Linked DNA regions of Homo sapiens. The protein of the gene in region 4 purifies or fractionates together with the protein of the main gene of each other region. This does not show direct contact. Each region holds a gene or a part of one and is shown on either strand. Other genes may lie near its edges.

What was found.
Region 1: the proteins of ARHGEF28 (region 4) and POC1A purify together in Homo sapiens (co-immunoprecipitation; one large-scale study listed by IntAct). This does not show direct contact.
Region 2: the proteins of ARHGEF28 (region 4) and CRYBB3 purify together in Homo sapiens (co-immunoprecipitation; one large-scale study listed by IntAct). This does not show direct contact.
Region 3: the proteins of ARHGEF28 (region 4) and SMC3 purify together in Homo sapiens (co-immunoprecipitation; one large-scale study listed by IntAct). This does not show direct contact.
Region 5: the proteins of ARHGEF28 (region 4) and FAM174A purify together in Homo sapiens (co-immunoprecipitation; one large-scale study listed by IntAct). This does not show direct contact.

The regions. Positions count from the first base shown.
Region 1 is NC_000003.12:52,078,061-52,081,434, forward strand, and holds part of POC1A (POC1 centriolar protein homolog A), read right to left. Parts: intron 1-3,374.
Region 2 is NC_000022.11:25,205,340-25,207,865, reverse strand, and holds the end of CRYBB3 (beta-crystallin B3), read right to left. Parts: coding exon 2,504-2,526; intron 820-2,503; coding exon 654-819; 3' UTR 507-653; downstream 1-506. UniProt on the Homo sapiens protein: Crystallins are the dominant structural components of the vertebrate eye lens.
Region 3 is NC_000010.11:110,570,681-110,574,205, reverse strand, and holds part of SMC3 (structural maintenance of chromosomes protein 3), read right to left. Parts: intron 500-3,525; coding exon 461-499; intron 1-460. UniProt on the Homo sapiens protein: Central component of cohesin, a complex required for chromosome cohesion during the cell cycle. The cohesin complex may form a large proteinaceous ring within which sister chromatids can be trapped.
Region 4 is NC_000005.10:73,937,174-73,939,845, reverse strand, and holds part of ARHGEF28 (rho guanine nucleotide exchange factor 28), read right to left. Parts: intron 1-2,672. UniProt on the Homo sapiens protein: Functions as a RHOA-specific guanine nucleotide exchange factor regulating signaling pathways downstream of integrins and growth factor receptors. Functions in axonal branching, synapse formation and dendritic morphogenesis.
Region 5 is NC_000005.10:100,562,862-100,566,386, reverse strand, and holds part of FAM174A (membrane protein FAM174A precursor), read right to left. Parts: intron 1-3,525.

The DNA.
Region 1 (3,374 bases), on a different chromosome or scaffold from region 4:
TCACTTCACAGCACAGTAGACAAACAGGCTTTTATGAGGCCCAACACCCCTCAAGGCAGTTTCTCCCCCTCCAGCCTAGCTTCAGAGGAGCTGTGTCATCTCTGTGTTTGGTCTCAGCTTCCCCTGTTCCTTCTCTGCCAAGGTGCCTCGTGGTGGCCACCATCAGGGAGAAAGAAGTCCAACCAGGCCCTTCCCAGCACACGTGATCCCAGCTGCCCCCACTCTGAGCCAGGAGAAGGCCTGGGAGAGCAGGATGCTTTTTGGATTTCTGTACATTAGAATGCTGTCTGGCACTCTTTGCTCCATGTAGTTAAAAAAAAAAAATCCTACTTTCTTAAAAATTTTTATATTTTTCTTAAAAATCAAATTTTCTTAATAAAGCATAGGACCTCATTTTCACAGAAAATGGTGACTCCTCATAGACAGTGAAACATGGAAATCTCTTTTTTTTTTTTTTTTTTTTTTTTTAAGACTGAGTCTCGTTCTGTCGACCCGGCTGAAGTGCAGTGGCGCGATCTCGGCTCACGACAAGCTCCGCCTCCCGGGTTCATGCCATTCTCCTGCCTCAGCCTCCCGAGTAGCTGGGACTACAGGCACCCGCCACTGCGCCCAGCTAATATTTTTGTATTTTTAGTATAGACGGGGTTTCACCGTGGTCTCGATCTCCTGACCTCGTGATCCGCCCGGCTCAGCCTCCCAAAATGTTGGGATTACAGGCGTGAGCCCCTGCGCCCGGCTGAAACATGGAAATCTGAAATGCTGCTGGTGTGCCTTCCCTCTACAAGGGGAAGGAAGGGGTTCCCCCATGATGGAAATGCCCCACTGGGCATCCAAGTGGCAAAGTGGAGACACACTCAGGGCTGGTGGCACACACAGGCAGGAGGGCTGGCAGGCCACCTGCAGGGAGTCTGTCTGGGCCACAGGCCCAGAGCAGCCAGGACAGGCCATCACAGTGCCACCGTGCTTCCCCAGCTGCACGGGAGCTGTGGGAGGAGGGCAGGAGAGCATCTGAGGTGGCAGAAGGGGTGTGTGGGGAGTACCCCTGGCACAGACTGGTTTGGAGCCATATCACGTGGCCTTGTTCAGAATGTATATGATCTTTACCTGTCGGTTCACAACAAAAAGTAAGCACATCCCCACATACCCATACGAGGGTTCAGAAAATACATGCTACCTCGGTGTACACAGGCCACTGCCATTTCCACCTGCTGCCTAGTGGCCCAACTCCCAGCGGGGCCCAGCCAAGCAGGCTGCTCTCGTCGCCTCATGCTCCGTCCAGCCCGGGAATTATCCTGCTACCAGCGCCTGTCCTCACCAGGCTGGAGACAAGGCCACACCTGCCCTGGAGGGTGAGGAGGAGCGCTCTGCAGGCAAATACCTCTGCGGCCTCCCCGGGTCCACACTCCATGGCCTGGAAGCCACGACTTTCATTTATTCAAGGAAAAATGAGCGCTGACCTTCCAAACAGTTCCTTGATCACACTGCCTCTCACCCTGTGCTCTGTACAGGGGAGCAGGGGCCAGAGGTCTGGTCCTAGCCCCTCAGAAGGTCCCCAAAGAGGTACAGGCTGTGTCAGGTGCCAGGTGTCAACAAGGGAAACTGCTTTGCCTGACACAAGCGTCCATGGCTTCTGGCTTTGGGGCAGGGTAAAGGGAAACTGACGAAGGGGTTGAGGAGTCCAGGGCTCTGGCTGCTAGAGGGGCAGCCTGGGCAAAGTGGCCAGGAAAGATGGCCCATCTCCCAGAACTCCCTCTTGCTGGGGTCCAACTCTTCCACAGTGCGGCCCCTTCTGTCTGCTGACCTTGGAGAAACCAGGCAGCTCATTCCCTTTCCTTGGACCTGGTGCTACCCTGGGAACATTCTTAAGTCCTCCATGTAATTGGGGTGTGGAGCTTAAACATGAGGGGGACCAGCAGGAGGTCCTGGGACTGGGCTCAGGGCGGTTCACCCTGATCATTGACCCTCTGCTCTGTGGGCTTCTCTTGGCAGCTGACTTTCACGGGACGCTCGTGTGTGCCAAAAACTTCAACAAACCTTCAGCGTGGGAGCTTTTATCATCCCCATTTTACAGATGAAGAAACTGAGGCACAGTGAGATTAAGTAACTTGCCTAAAGTTACACAGCTTATCAGTGACAAGCCTAGGCTGTGAGCCTAGGTGGCCTGGCTGCAGTGAGCACACTAAAGCACTGGGTAGTGTGCATCTTGGCTCTGTCCCCATCAAGAATGCCAAAGGAGAGGCCTGCTGGTGTCCCATCCCACTTCCAGCCCTGATGCCCAAACTCAGGCAGCCTGAGGAAAGACTAGGGGATCCCTGTCCTCACCCAGCAGCAGCACCTGCTGTCCTGGTTTAGGCTGCCTGGCCTAGCTGCTCTGAATTAAATGAGCAGAAACTCCTACCTCAGCCACAGTGGGAATGGACAGCCCCCAGGGTCACCCACCCCCTCACATTGTCAGGCCTCATGTGTCACCTCCCCCTGAAAAGCAGTCTCTTACCTGGCTAAACATTTAGGTTTGGAATTATTACAAAGGTCATAAGGATAATTCATGTGAGCCATGAAAACTCAATATTATAGGAACCGAAAGGACATAGTGACAAGAACCTCCTCCTGGATGCACCACGAGAAGCTGCCCCAATCACTTCACTGTCAACGCTTCTTTCACTGGCACTTGTGCCACTGCAGCATTAAGTGATCAGCCCCAAAACATGCTGTGGAACTCGCCTGGGTCACTGCTGGGTGGCCCATCCCCTGAAGACAAGGTTCAACTTTAAACAAGGTACCTCTCTCTCCCTAAATCGGAGTGACAGGAAGCCGGATTGAGGACCCTATGGCCTGGGCACTGTCACTCCTCACCCGATACTGTCCGCCTCCCAAGTCAAGGCCCTCATGGCCAGTGTCAGGAAGCCTCATGGGGTGTGGTCAGCAGGGCTCCAGAAGTTTTATCTTCAAAGTCACATCTGCCGAGGTTCACCTGGGGGCTCATTTCTGAACCCTTTTCCTACTCTGTTACCAGCAATTTCCTGGAAGCCATGGCCCTTCTCAAGAAAGCCTTGGCCTTAAAATCACTTGTTTGCCATCGAATGTATTCTGTTGTTTCTCTAGACCAAGGGTTAGCAAACTACGGCCGGCTGCCCCTTTGTGTAAATAAGGTTTTATGGACACGCCTGCTGGCTTCCGTATGGTCTCTGGCTGCCTTCTGGGTCCAGCGACAGGTTGACAGAGGCTGTATGGTCCACAAAGCCTAAAATCTTTACTGTTTAAATTTGCTGACCCTTGCCCTCGCTCTTCCCTTACTCAAACTCTCACAAAGCACCTCCCCAACGCTGGCCTGTGCCTGGCCCAGGATGATAATACGCAGACTCGGCTGAGCCCAC
Region 2 (2,526 bases), on a different chromosome or scaffold from region 4:
ATGAATGGATGGATGGATGGATGCATGGATGGATGAATGGGTGGTAGGTAGTTGGATGGATGAATGAATGGGTAGATGGGTGGGTGGGTGGATGGATGGATGGGTGAGTAGATGAATGGATGGGCACATGGGTGGGTGAATGGGTGGATGAATGGGTGGGTGGATGGATGGATGGATGGGTGAGTAGACGAATGGATGGGCACATGAGTGGGTGAATGGGTGGATGAATGGGTGGGTGGGTGGGTGGAAGGATGATGGATGGATGGGTGAGTGGATGGGCAGACTGACAGACATTCAGATGGAAACATGCAGCAGCAGACAAACACAAGATCAGGGCAGTAGGGGCACATGGCTCTGCCTGAAAGGATTAGAGCCTAGGATATGGGCAAATTTCCCAGCCCCTTCCTGGGAGTCTCAGAACACTCAAGCCCCAGCCTCCTTCAGCACGCCTCTCCCACAGGTCCCGCCCCAGGCCTGGCTCCCTCAGGAAGTGATGCCGAGGAACGTGGCGGGTGGGGGACCAACCCCAGGCTTTATTGAGCAGATTCCAGGGAAGGGTGGACAGGTCGGCCCTCGCCCCAACCCTGGAGCCTCCTCTTCTTGCCCTTGCAGCCCCCCAGGGTGGGTCTGGGTCCTTGAAGTCTGGGTGCCTTTCAGCTGCTGGGGAAGCGGCCCCGCTTGTGCCACTTCTGGTCACGGATGCGGCGCACAGACTGCAGCTGCGGCTGGCTGGCGTCCCACTCATTCCAGTGGCGGTACTCGCCCCGCTCAAACACGTACTGGCGCCCACGGTAGCCGGGGAACTCATAGCCAACCCACCTGCCGGGAGACCAAGGTTGAGATGTGGACGGTCTGCTTCCAGTCACCCTGCCTCCAGCCAGCATCTGACCATGCACTCTGCCTGCCTACATTCCTCTTTAGCTCCCCAGAGCCCTTGGGATGAATCCAAACTCTTTACCCTGCTCACAGGACCCTTAACAAAGCATCTCTAGCCTTATCTCTCAACATCCCATTCACACTCAACACCGTGGCCTCTCTTATTCTACTTTCCCGGAACCTGCTGTGTTGGGGGGCCTTTGTATGCATGATTCCTTCTGCCTGGAACACTCTTGCTCACCTCATCCCTCTCCTTCCCCCTTTTTTCCACTTGCATCCATTACAGCTCAATTTAGATGTCTCCAGACTCCTGCAGGCTGAATCGAGTACCTCACTGGGACTCCCAGAGCCCCTTGTGCATCCCAGTCCCAATCCTGATCACAATACGTTGTGAATACCTGTTACTTTGTCTGTCTCTCCATCAAACTATGTAATTTTTCTTTTTTTAGATGGAGTTTCGCTCTTGTTGCTCAGGCTGGAGTGCAGTGGCGTGATCTCGGCTCACTACAACCTCCACCTCCCAGGTTCAAGTGATTCTCCTGCCTCAGCCTCTTGAGTAGCTGGGATTACAGGCATGCGCCACCATGCCCGGCTAATTTTGTATTTTTAGTAGAGACGGGGTTTCTCCGTGGTGGTCAGGCTGGTCATGAACTCCTGACCTCAGGTGATCCGCCCACTTCGGCCTCCCAAAGTGCTGGGATTACAGGCGTGAGCCCCAGACTACGCAAATTTTTTGAGGGCCAGAGGATGTGCCATTCTTGTTGTTCTCTGTATCAGCACACCAGCATATAGTAGATGTTCAGTAAAAAATTGTTGAATAAATTATTATCAGGGATAGGTGGCACCTCTCAAGGCCCAACCCCAGATTACAAGCCCACAAGTGAGATGTAACCACCTACAAAAAGCAGGTGATCCTAAGACTGCATCAACGGTGATATTAAGCCTAGAAAGAGGGAGGTGATAAGCCTGCTCTCCTCTGTACAACTTGTGTCACATCTCAATAACTGCATACATCCTGGGCCCCTTGTTAAGAAGAACAAGAGTTGTGAGGGGGAAGAACATTTCAAGAATCAGTTCAAGGGTGTGGGGATGTTTAAAAAAGCAGGAAGGACTCAGATGGGAACAGGTGGAGAGAACAGATTTTACTTGTTTTAAGTCAAGGCTGCCTAGAAATCTCAACAGTACAGGAGTGCAGGGAACATGAATCATGCAAGAAACTATAGGCACCGATGGCCGGGCGCCGTGGCTCACACCTGTAATCCCAGCACTTTGGGAGGCCGAGGCGGGCAGATCATGAGGTCAGGAGATTGAGACCATCCTGGCTAACACGGTGAAACCCCGTCTCTACTAAAAATACAAAAACTTAGCCGGGCGTGGTCGTGGGCGCCTGTAGTCCCAGCTACTCGGGAGGCTGAGGCAGGAGAATGGCATGAACCCGGGAGGCGGAGCTTGCAGTGAGCTGAGATCGCGCCACTGCACTCCAGCCTGGGCGACAGAGCAAGACTCCGTCTCAAAAATAAATAAATAAATAAATAAAATAATAAGAAACTATGGGCACTGATTCTGTTTGGAGCCAGAGGCATGGCTGACCAGAAGATGGGGCAAGGGTGAGGGTTGGGTCCCTTACGTCCCGTTGATGGCACGGACACT
Region 3 (3,525 bases), on a different chromosome or scaffold from region 4:
TAGAAAACGTTTTCAAAAAGGTGAAATAAGAAAGATGAACAATTTTCCAAAACAATACTATCAACTATTCTACTGCATTTACATACGTTTAAAATATGCATTTATAACATTTATATATTACATTCAAGTTTAAAAAGCATTTTCATACATACTATTGCATTCCATTCTTACAAACCATCTAAGGTAGACAGGGCAAACATCCAAACATCTCCATTTTTAAAGTGAAAAGAAAAATTTGAGAGGCTACGTGTTTTGCCCACTCTCACACAGCTAATCAGCCACTGGGTATAAAGCAGAATTCAGATCTGTATACTCTAAACCCTCTACACTAAGCTGCAACCCCATATAAAGTATTTCTTGGGTTTCATGAATACATAACCTCAGAAAATTAATGATTTTAATAATCTACCCTAAGATACCCAGGTCTTAATATATTTACAATTCAAAAAGCAACACCTACCATAAAAAAAGTTACTTTTTCCAGATCCATTTCTGCCCACTGGAAAATTTCAAAAAGTACAAGTTATTTTACATAAAAACCAATAAAATTAAAACTGTTTACCTTTTTAAAAATACTCAATATTTTTAAAATCCAATTTTCTAATACATCTTAACATCTGAAATTAAACAGTGAACAAAAGAAACCAATAAAACAACTATAATCACCAAATAAATTCAATTTTTGTACAGACTTCTAATAGTTTTTTCTTTAAAGATATTTCACAGTTGATCCGTTTGCTCTTACCCAATAGTTTAAAATGAATAGGAATAGCTAAATATACTACCTGGCTCTTATATCATATTACAATGGATATATAATTCTATTTTAACTATATATGTTTAACAATTTAAAGATTCATATATTGCTAACGTTCTAAAATAATCATTTTAAATCCTTAAAGTGTTCTCATGTTTAAAATCAACCCTATATTATCATGTGTAGTCTCACAGAACCACAAAAATATAAATAATTTTAAGGTACTTTTTGACTAACAAAATTCAAATATAAGCAATTCAATACGTAAAAGGGTATCAAATCCTTTTAAGTGTGTTTAGTGAAATTTTCAGTGTTAAGACTCATAAATAACTATGTCAGTCTTCTCACTCTTGAGCCAGAAATATCCTGAGCAAATTAACCACAAAGTTACCACCTTTAATGCAAAGTAAATCTCAAAAAGATCATTCATGTCATGCCAGAAAGGATGTACTTTTTAAAAAAACGCATATGACAGACACAGGAGCCAGCTTGAAGGGGCCTTTCAGTAGCTAAAACTAGGGGTAATCTGAGCATCAAAATGGCCAAATAAATTATAAATTATTGGTGGGGGGAATAATCCATGCATCCATACCAATAATAAAAAGATAAATAAGTAGGTAAGGAAGGAGGAGAATTACCAAATGCCAAGTTGTAAATGTGAAAGGAGTGCTGGAAATGAAAAATCATTTTGTGACCGTCAGAATAAAGGCAAGGGTCATCAACAGATGGTAAATGCAGGCACAAAGTTTGAAAAGGAGCACAAGATTTACATGGTCCAAAAGCATCTGCCTATATTACTTATTAGCTGCAAGGGAAAAAATAATACCTACACAGTGGAAACATTAGACCTTGACTGGGTGATCAAAAGTAATATCATCAATAAGAGTCAGACAGACCTCATGTGCCTCCAGATGTGATATCCTGAGAGGGACACAACATCACTTATGTCTTAATTCTCAAAAATAACAATGTTATAAAAGACAAAGGAAGGCTGTGGAAATGATCCAGATTAAAGGAGACTAAAGAAGCATGACAACTATGCAATACCTGCTCCTAAATTAGATCCTGTACTGGAGGGGGAAAAATGCTATCAAGAACACTTCTGGGTCAGTCAACATAACTGGAAAATGGACAGATTACTATGTATTAAATTTACTTAAGTTGTAAATTGTACTGTGATTATGAAAGAGAACATCCCTCCTCTTAGAAAGTACACATTAAAGTCAGAGGTAAAGGACCATGGTGTAAATAACTTTAAGGAAAAAGGTGTGTAAAAAGTGGAAATGATACAGCAAGTGGGGAAAATGTTAACAACAGGTGAATCTAGGTAAAGGGTTTATGAGTAGTCTCTGAACAGTTCTTATTGGGGAAATTTTTCTGTAAATTTGAAACTATTTCTAAATAAAAGTTTAAGATGACAATTTATCATTAAATGAATAAATATTTCAAACCACAATCCATCTATAAATAACTGAAATTTTAAGAATTTCCTTTTAAGAATTACTGCTAGAGTGGAACACTATATAGCAATTTTAAAGGATGCTGAATATTTAATAAAGATATTTCAAGATTTATCCTGAAGGAGAATAACAGATTACCAGTAAGTTATATGATGAACCCATTTTTTATTTAAAAATGAACCCATTTTTATTTAAAAATGAACCCATTTTTATTTAAATATATATTAAAAAGATGTATACAAAGACTAAAAACGTACTGAGGTAAACACAGTTTATATGTGGCCCCAGATTCACCTTTCTCAACCCAGGCCTTGGCTGCCAATCAATGGAAAAGCTCAGTCTCCTAATACCTCTGGTAGATTCAAGCTACCTTGGGAGTACATTCAGGTACTCCTGAATTGTGAACATGGAAAGGAGGCTATAACTCCCTGACTACTTCCGGGTGTTAGTTCCCAGAGCACCACAATCCAAAAGCTTGGAGGCATCAATGCCAGATGTAGAAAACTTTGACCAATGAAAGACAGGTGCCTGCAAACAAATCCTTGTCAGAATCCAAATCCATTCCTCTATCATCTGACCTTTCTAAGGTATGGTGGGTCCACAAAGTCTGTGAGTTATTTAACATGACTGCAAACCACCTGTCTCTTCTTTAGAAATCTATGACCAGCTTTTCTCTTCATTCTTGCCCTCAAACTGCACCTCCCATCAAAGCCTTAGCAGCTAATCCTGTCTGTGCTGTTTTCTAGGAAACCAGGACTAATCACAAGTATAGACTGTTATTATTAAGAATGGTTATCTCTGAAGAATCATGGTGTGCAGTAAAAAACAAAGAATGGTTATCTCTGAGTAAAAGGATTATAGTTTATCTTAATTTTCTTCCTTTTAGCTTTTCCATAATGTTCTATAACATGTATTTCTTTTGTTAAAGGTTAGGGGGAAAAAAATCCCTAAAAACGTATATGTTTGATGCATATACCCAACATCAGTACAAGAGATATTTTTTAATAGTCAACATCATTCATCAATCAAAGTGGTATGCTTTCACCAGATATTTTTAAGGCAAATCTCAGTACCTAACTACTTTTGGTCTTTCTTACATTATGTCTTACAACGTGTCTGGTTTTAAAATATGTTTAATCAGTACTGTTATCTTGGGTTCATTTGTTTTAGTTAAACAAAACCATTTTCCTTTGTAACAGTGACTATTAACAAATCTAATGCTGCAATCACAGAGGTAACACAACTAACTGATAACAGCTAAAACAATGGTATTTGATGGACCTTATAGACAAAATGTAATCATTCTAG
Region 4 (2,672 bases):
ACATTTTCTTCAAAGCCTCTATTATTTAGATGGATATACACACGTGCAGACATTCCAATGACACAAATGCTTGTGGCCTTTGCCCTCCTGACAAGGATCTTTGGTTGCTAGAGAAGGCAGTAAGCAAGGCTTGGCAGGAATGAAAGGAAAACTCTTCCCAGAAGGCTCCATCTTTGGGGACATGGTGGCCTTGCCACACCTCATTTCATCCCATCTTCCAGTAGGAGGTGGGTCAATGGAGGAGGAGCAGCCAGGGCCACAGGAGCCGATGAAGGTCCCTGGAGGAGCTGCACCAAGGCTGGACTGTGCCTCTGAAGCAAAGGAGGACCCTCAAGGCAGGGGAGGGGAGGAAGAGAGGTAGGGAGGCATGGGGGTGAGGCTGCAACCACAGCTCTGCTCAAAGGCTTAGCCCATCCCTGACCCTTTAGATGCCAATAGGCACAAAGCTTGATTCTACTGCCCCTGATCCTAAATGCTGTACCTCAAATTCCAGGAACTCACTAACAACTGAAAGCATACCTGCAGAAGGTGCCTCTAACTGCCACCATTTACAGAGCACAGGAGTTGTCCCAGGTCTTTTACATTCGTCATCTCTCTCTAAGTCTCAAAATGCTAAAACCCACAATTTACAGGCTGGGAAACCGAGGCTCAGGCTAGTGAAATTCTGACCCACATCATGCAGCTAGGAAGTGATCTGGATCTACGCTCAGAGGATGGCAGCCACGTGATGACTCCTTGCTCTAATGATCAAGACTCTCGTGCTTCTCATTTCTCTTTGTGCTGAAAATGGCTTGGCCATCTTTTCTGAATTAAGAGATCCTCAATGTTTAATACTTTCCCTCCCTTACATACTACATTTTGAAGAGTCACTTGCCAAAAAAAAGAAGAAAGCAAAGGCAAAAAAAAAAAAAAAAGACATATTAATGTTAAGCTTCTCAAAACTGACACAGCAATTGTTATAGAACTAGGAACCTCCCTTAATCGGGCGAACAAAAATATTCCCAGGCAATGATTTCCTTGTCAGGGCAACATTACAAATCAACCTGGAATGCTCTGAATCCTATTTTACCACACTGGGAGACAAAGCATGCCTGTGGTCACAACACGCAGTCACACTTCCAATTCCTTTTCCCAGCCATAGACTGAAGCTATTTCACCTCTAAATACAAATATGCACAGCTAAATTGCTGATGTTTAATTTTATACAACTTCAAAAAAATGCCCCCAAATTTCCATCGAGCAGACACTGGCAGACTGAACAGGTCACCAAAGCCACAACAGTCCTGCCTCCTTACCAACAGAAGGGCCAGCCAGAGCACAAAAATTACTACATTGAGGATGAAAAATCATCCAGTGAATGAGGCAGCTGGGAGGTCATTGCTGACACATCTGACAATGCCGGACACACTGGAAGCCCTTAATCTATGTAGGTTTTCTTCATCTGGGGTGTGAAACATGGAGCAAAAAATTCAAAATAGTGATATTTTGAGGTACATGGAAAATCCCCTTAATGGCTTCAAGAGAAGACTTGTTCAAAACAGCCAAATTGAATATATATCAGAAATAACTCTTTTTTAAGTTACATTGTATGCTCTACTTCAAGAAGATACAGAACCAAGAATGAACGGGGATGGGGATGGGGAGTTGTGTGTGTGTGTGTGTGTGTGTGTGTGTGTGTGTGTGTGGTGTAGTGTAGAAGTTTAATCAGAACTTTTTCAAATAAGAATAAAAATACAGGAGAAACACATTCCTAGGTGAGAGCTTGTTGTGCCCTAAGGTGAACAGCCCATGTTGTAATTCCAGATGTATTACTGGAGGTGGTTGTGGTTGTATGTCACCTGGACGGGAACTCAATTTCCTTCTCCATGTTCCTTCTTGGTTTCTACCTGAACTATGTAGGCAAGGTCAGACAGTCTGTCTTTGAAATTAGAAACCGTTTGGTGATTTCTGATTTTGTTACTCCATTTCAACTCTGAAAGAACCAGCACAGCAATTGTATATTTCTCAAGGCCAGCCACCTTTTTCCACACTTTTTACCCTAGAGAATATGATCATCATATAGAACCCTAAACTGAAAAAACATTTGTTAATATTAAACCTCACTGACTCAGAAAGCAGAATTCTTGCTATATAAAAGTAATCACCCAGTTTCATTTGTGATCGAATTGCCTGTAAATCGATGGACATAAAAATGTAATAACATATTTCTAATAAGCAAGGAAATAGCAATACAATCATAATTTGGTCAACTAAAAACGAATATTATTATAATGAAACAAAACTCAAACTACAAAAAAACATTTCAGCCAAGTATCTCAACACAATTTTGCCTCTTGACATAAAAGAAATAATTTGATCCCTAACATTATCTCTGGAAACTAAACAGAGCGAGCATTATTAACCTTTAGAGCAAATAAGCTAAAACACATAAAAGCCCCAAAGCCTGACTAAACCAAGTAGAAAAGTGGGATCTTGATTGAGAGTTTTTTCTGCTACATTACTGAGCTTTTGTTCACAAACTAAAATTTCAGCCTCTGCAGGAAACTTCGATACTCACATTATGAGGACCACCGTGGGGGGTCTAAGTTAGTCTCCTAACATGGTTTCAAAAAATTACAGGTATCCACATTTTGGCTGGCACCATTCCTTTTCTTTGTGGGCATGTGGGACAG
Region 5 (3,525 bases), about 27 Mb from region 4:
ACCCCTACTCTATTCACTACTATAAGCTTGACTATTTAGATTCCATATATAAGTGAGATAATGCAATATCTGTCTTTCTATGTTTGGATTGTTTCAAATAACATAAATTCCTCCATGTTCATCCATGTTGTTGCAAATGTCCAGATTTTCTTTTTTTTAAGGCTGAATAATATTCAATAGTATATCATACATGTAATTATATATATTATATGTACATATATATATATATATATATATATATATATCATACTTTTCAAATTCATTTATCTGTTGATATGGTTTGGCTGTGCCCCCACCTAAATCTCATCTTGAATTGTAGCTCCCTTAATCCTCAGGTATCATGGAAGGAACCTGGTGGGAGGTAATTGAAACACAGGGGCAAGTTTTTCCCATGCTGTTCTTATGATATTGAATAAGTCTCATGAAATCTGATGGTTTTATAAAGGGTGGTTCCCCTACACATGCTCTCTTGCCTGCCATCATGTAAGATGTGCCTTTGCTCCTCCTTTGCCTACTGCCATGATTGTGAGGCCTCCCTAGCCATGCAGAATTGTGAGTCCATTAAACCTCTTTTTCTTTATAAATTACCCAGTCTCCGATATTTCTTCCAAGCAGTATGAAAACGGACTAATACATCTGTCAATGCACATTTAGGTTATTTCCACAGCTTGATTAATATGAATAATGCTGCAGTGAACATGGGAGTGCAGATCTCTCTATGTAATAATGGTTTCCTTTGGATATATATCCAGCAGCAAAACTGCTAAATCATAAGGTAATTATATTTTTAATTTATTGAGGAATTTCTGTACTGCTTTCCATAACAGCTGTGCCAACTTACATTCCCACCAACAGAGTACAGGGGTCATGTGCCCATTTTAAAATCAGATTATGTGAGATTTTTGGCTATTAACTTACATGCACTCCTTATAAATTTTGGATATTAACTCATATATATATGTATATACATATATGGTTTATAAATATTTTGTCCCATTATTAAAGTTCCTTTTCACTCTGATGATTATCTACTTGGCTGTGCAGAAGCATTTTAGTTTGATGCAACCTCATTTGTCTATGTGGATAGCACTGTCAAATGCTTTTTCTGTGTCTACTGAAATGATCTTGTGGCTTTTTTTCTTTCAACCTATTAATGTGTTCTATTGCATTGATTTGCATGTGTTGAAAGATATTTGCATTCCAGGGACAAATCCCACTTAATCATGGTGTATCATCATTTTAATATGCTGCTGAATTTGGGTAACTAGCATTTTATTGAGGACTTTTGTATCATGTTCATCAGGAGTATTGGCCTGCGGTTTGCTTTCCTTCGTCTGGCTTTGGTATCAGGATAACACTAGCCTCATAAAATGAGTTTTAAAGTGCTTCTTCTTCTATTTGTCAGAATAATTTGAGAAGGACGAGTATTAATTCTTCTTTAAATGTCTGGTATAATTTACCCATGAAGCCATATGGTCTTGGACATTTCTTTGTTGGAAGGTTTTGACTACTGATTCAATTTCCTTATTTGTTACTTGTCTGTTTGGACTTCGAATTTCTTTTTGATTCAAGTTTCATAGATTGTATGTTTCTAGGAATTTATCTATTTTTCTAGGTTATCAAATTTGTTGGCATATAATTGTTCATAGTAGTCTCATGTCTTCTTTAATTTCTGAGGTACCCATTGTAATTTCTTCTCTTTTATTTCTGATTTTATTTATTTGAGCCTTTTCTTTTTTGCTTAGTCTAGCTAATGGTTTATTGATTTTATCTTTTCTATACGCAAAATCTTAATTTTATTGATTTTTCTCATTGTCTTTTTCAACTCTATTTAATGTATTTCTATTATAATCTTAATTATTTCCCTCGTTCTGCTAATTTTAGGCTTAGGCTTAAAGTGTTTTTCTTTTGCCACTTTCTGAAAGGGTAAAGCTAGGTTGTTTATTTGAAGTCTTTCTTCTTTCATAGCATAAGCATTTATTGCTATAAACTTCTCTCCTAGCAATGCTTTTGCTGCATCCCATAAGTTTTGTTATGCCATTTTTTTTTTGTCTCAAAATAGCTCTTAAAATTCCCTTTGATTTCCTATTTGACCCAATAATTGCTCAAGAGTGTGTTGTTCAGTGTATTAGTCCATTCTTTCATTGCTATAAAGACATACCTGAGACTGGGTAATTTATAAAGAAAAGAGGTTTAATTGGCTCGTGGTTCTGCAGACTATACAAGCATGGTGCTGACATCTGCTTGGCTTCTGAGCATATATCAGGGAGCTTTTACTCATGGTGCAAGGTGAAATGGGATCAGGTACTTCAAACGGCAAATATAGGAGCAAGGAGGAGCAGGTGCTACACACTTAAAACAACCACATTTTGCAAGAACTCACTATCACAAGGACAGCACCAAGCCATGAGGGATCAGTCCCCATGACCCAAACATCTCTGACCAGGCTTCAATTTCAGCATGGAGGGTTACAATTGACATGAGATTTGGCCTGGAGGTTTATTCAAACTATATCGTTTAGTTTCCACATATTTATAATTTTTCCTGTTTTCCTGCTGTTATTGATTTCTATTTCTATTCCATGGAGGTTGGAAAAGACACTTGGAATAATTTCAATCTTCTTAAAGTTGTTAAGACTTGTTTTGTGACCTAAGATGATTTATCTCAGAGTGCATCCCATGGGCACTTGAGAAGAATGTGAATTCTTCTGCTGTTGGGTGCAAAGTTCTGTATATGTCTGTCAGGTCCACTGGTCTACAGTGTTGTTTAAGTCAGAGGTTTCTTTATTGATTTTCTGTCTAGATAGTCTATTCATTATTGTAAGTGGGATATTAAAGTCCCATAAATTATTTTATGGCTGTCAATTTCCTACTTCAGATCTGTCAATATTTGCTTTATAATTTAGGTGCTCTGATAGAGTCATACTAATTGTCATATCTTCCTGGTGAATTGACTCCTTTACTATGTAATGATCTTTTTTTTTTTTGTCTCAAGAGATAGTTTTTGACTTAAAATCTAATTTGTCTGATATAAATTTAGCAACCCCTGCTTTGTTTTGGTTACCATTTGCATGGAATATCAGTTTCTGTCCCTTTTCTTTCATCTTATATGCGTCTTTAATTGAAAGTGAGTGCCTGAAGAACAGATGCAATTGTTTTGTTCATGTTTGCCTATTCAGGCTGTAATACTATTAAAATGTATAATTCATGAACATATTTGTATTAAATGAACAAATTATCAGCATTACTAAAAGTTCCTTTGTGTGTGTGCATATATATAAACAGCTTAGATAGATAGATGGATAGACATATATAGATATAAATATAGATATACAGGACTTAGTAGTCCAATTTTTGTTGAGTCATCTTCTTTTCTGTAATCCTAAGATTTCTGTTTTCTTTGCATTTGTACCTGACTCTGGACTCTAATTCTCCTTCACCCAAGTAATCCCTCTGGATTCCAAGATGTCTTTCCTTATTAGGTTGAATCTTTGTTGGCTTTTTTCCCCATTCTATTTACATTGGC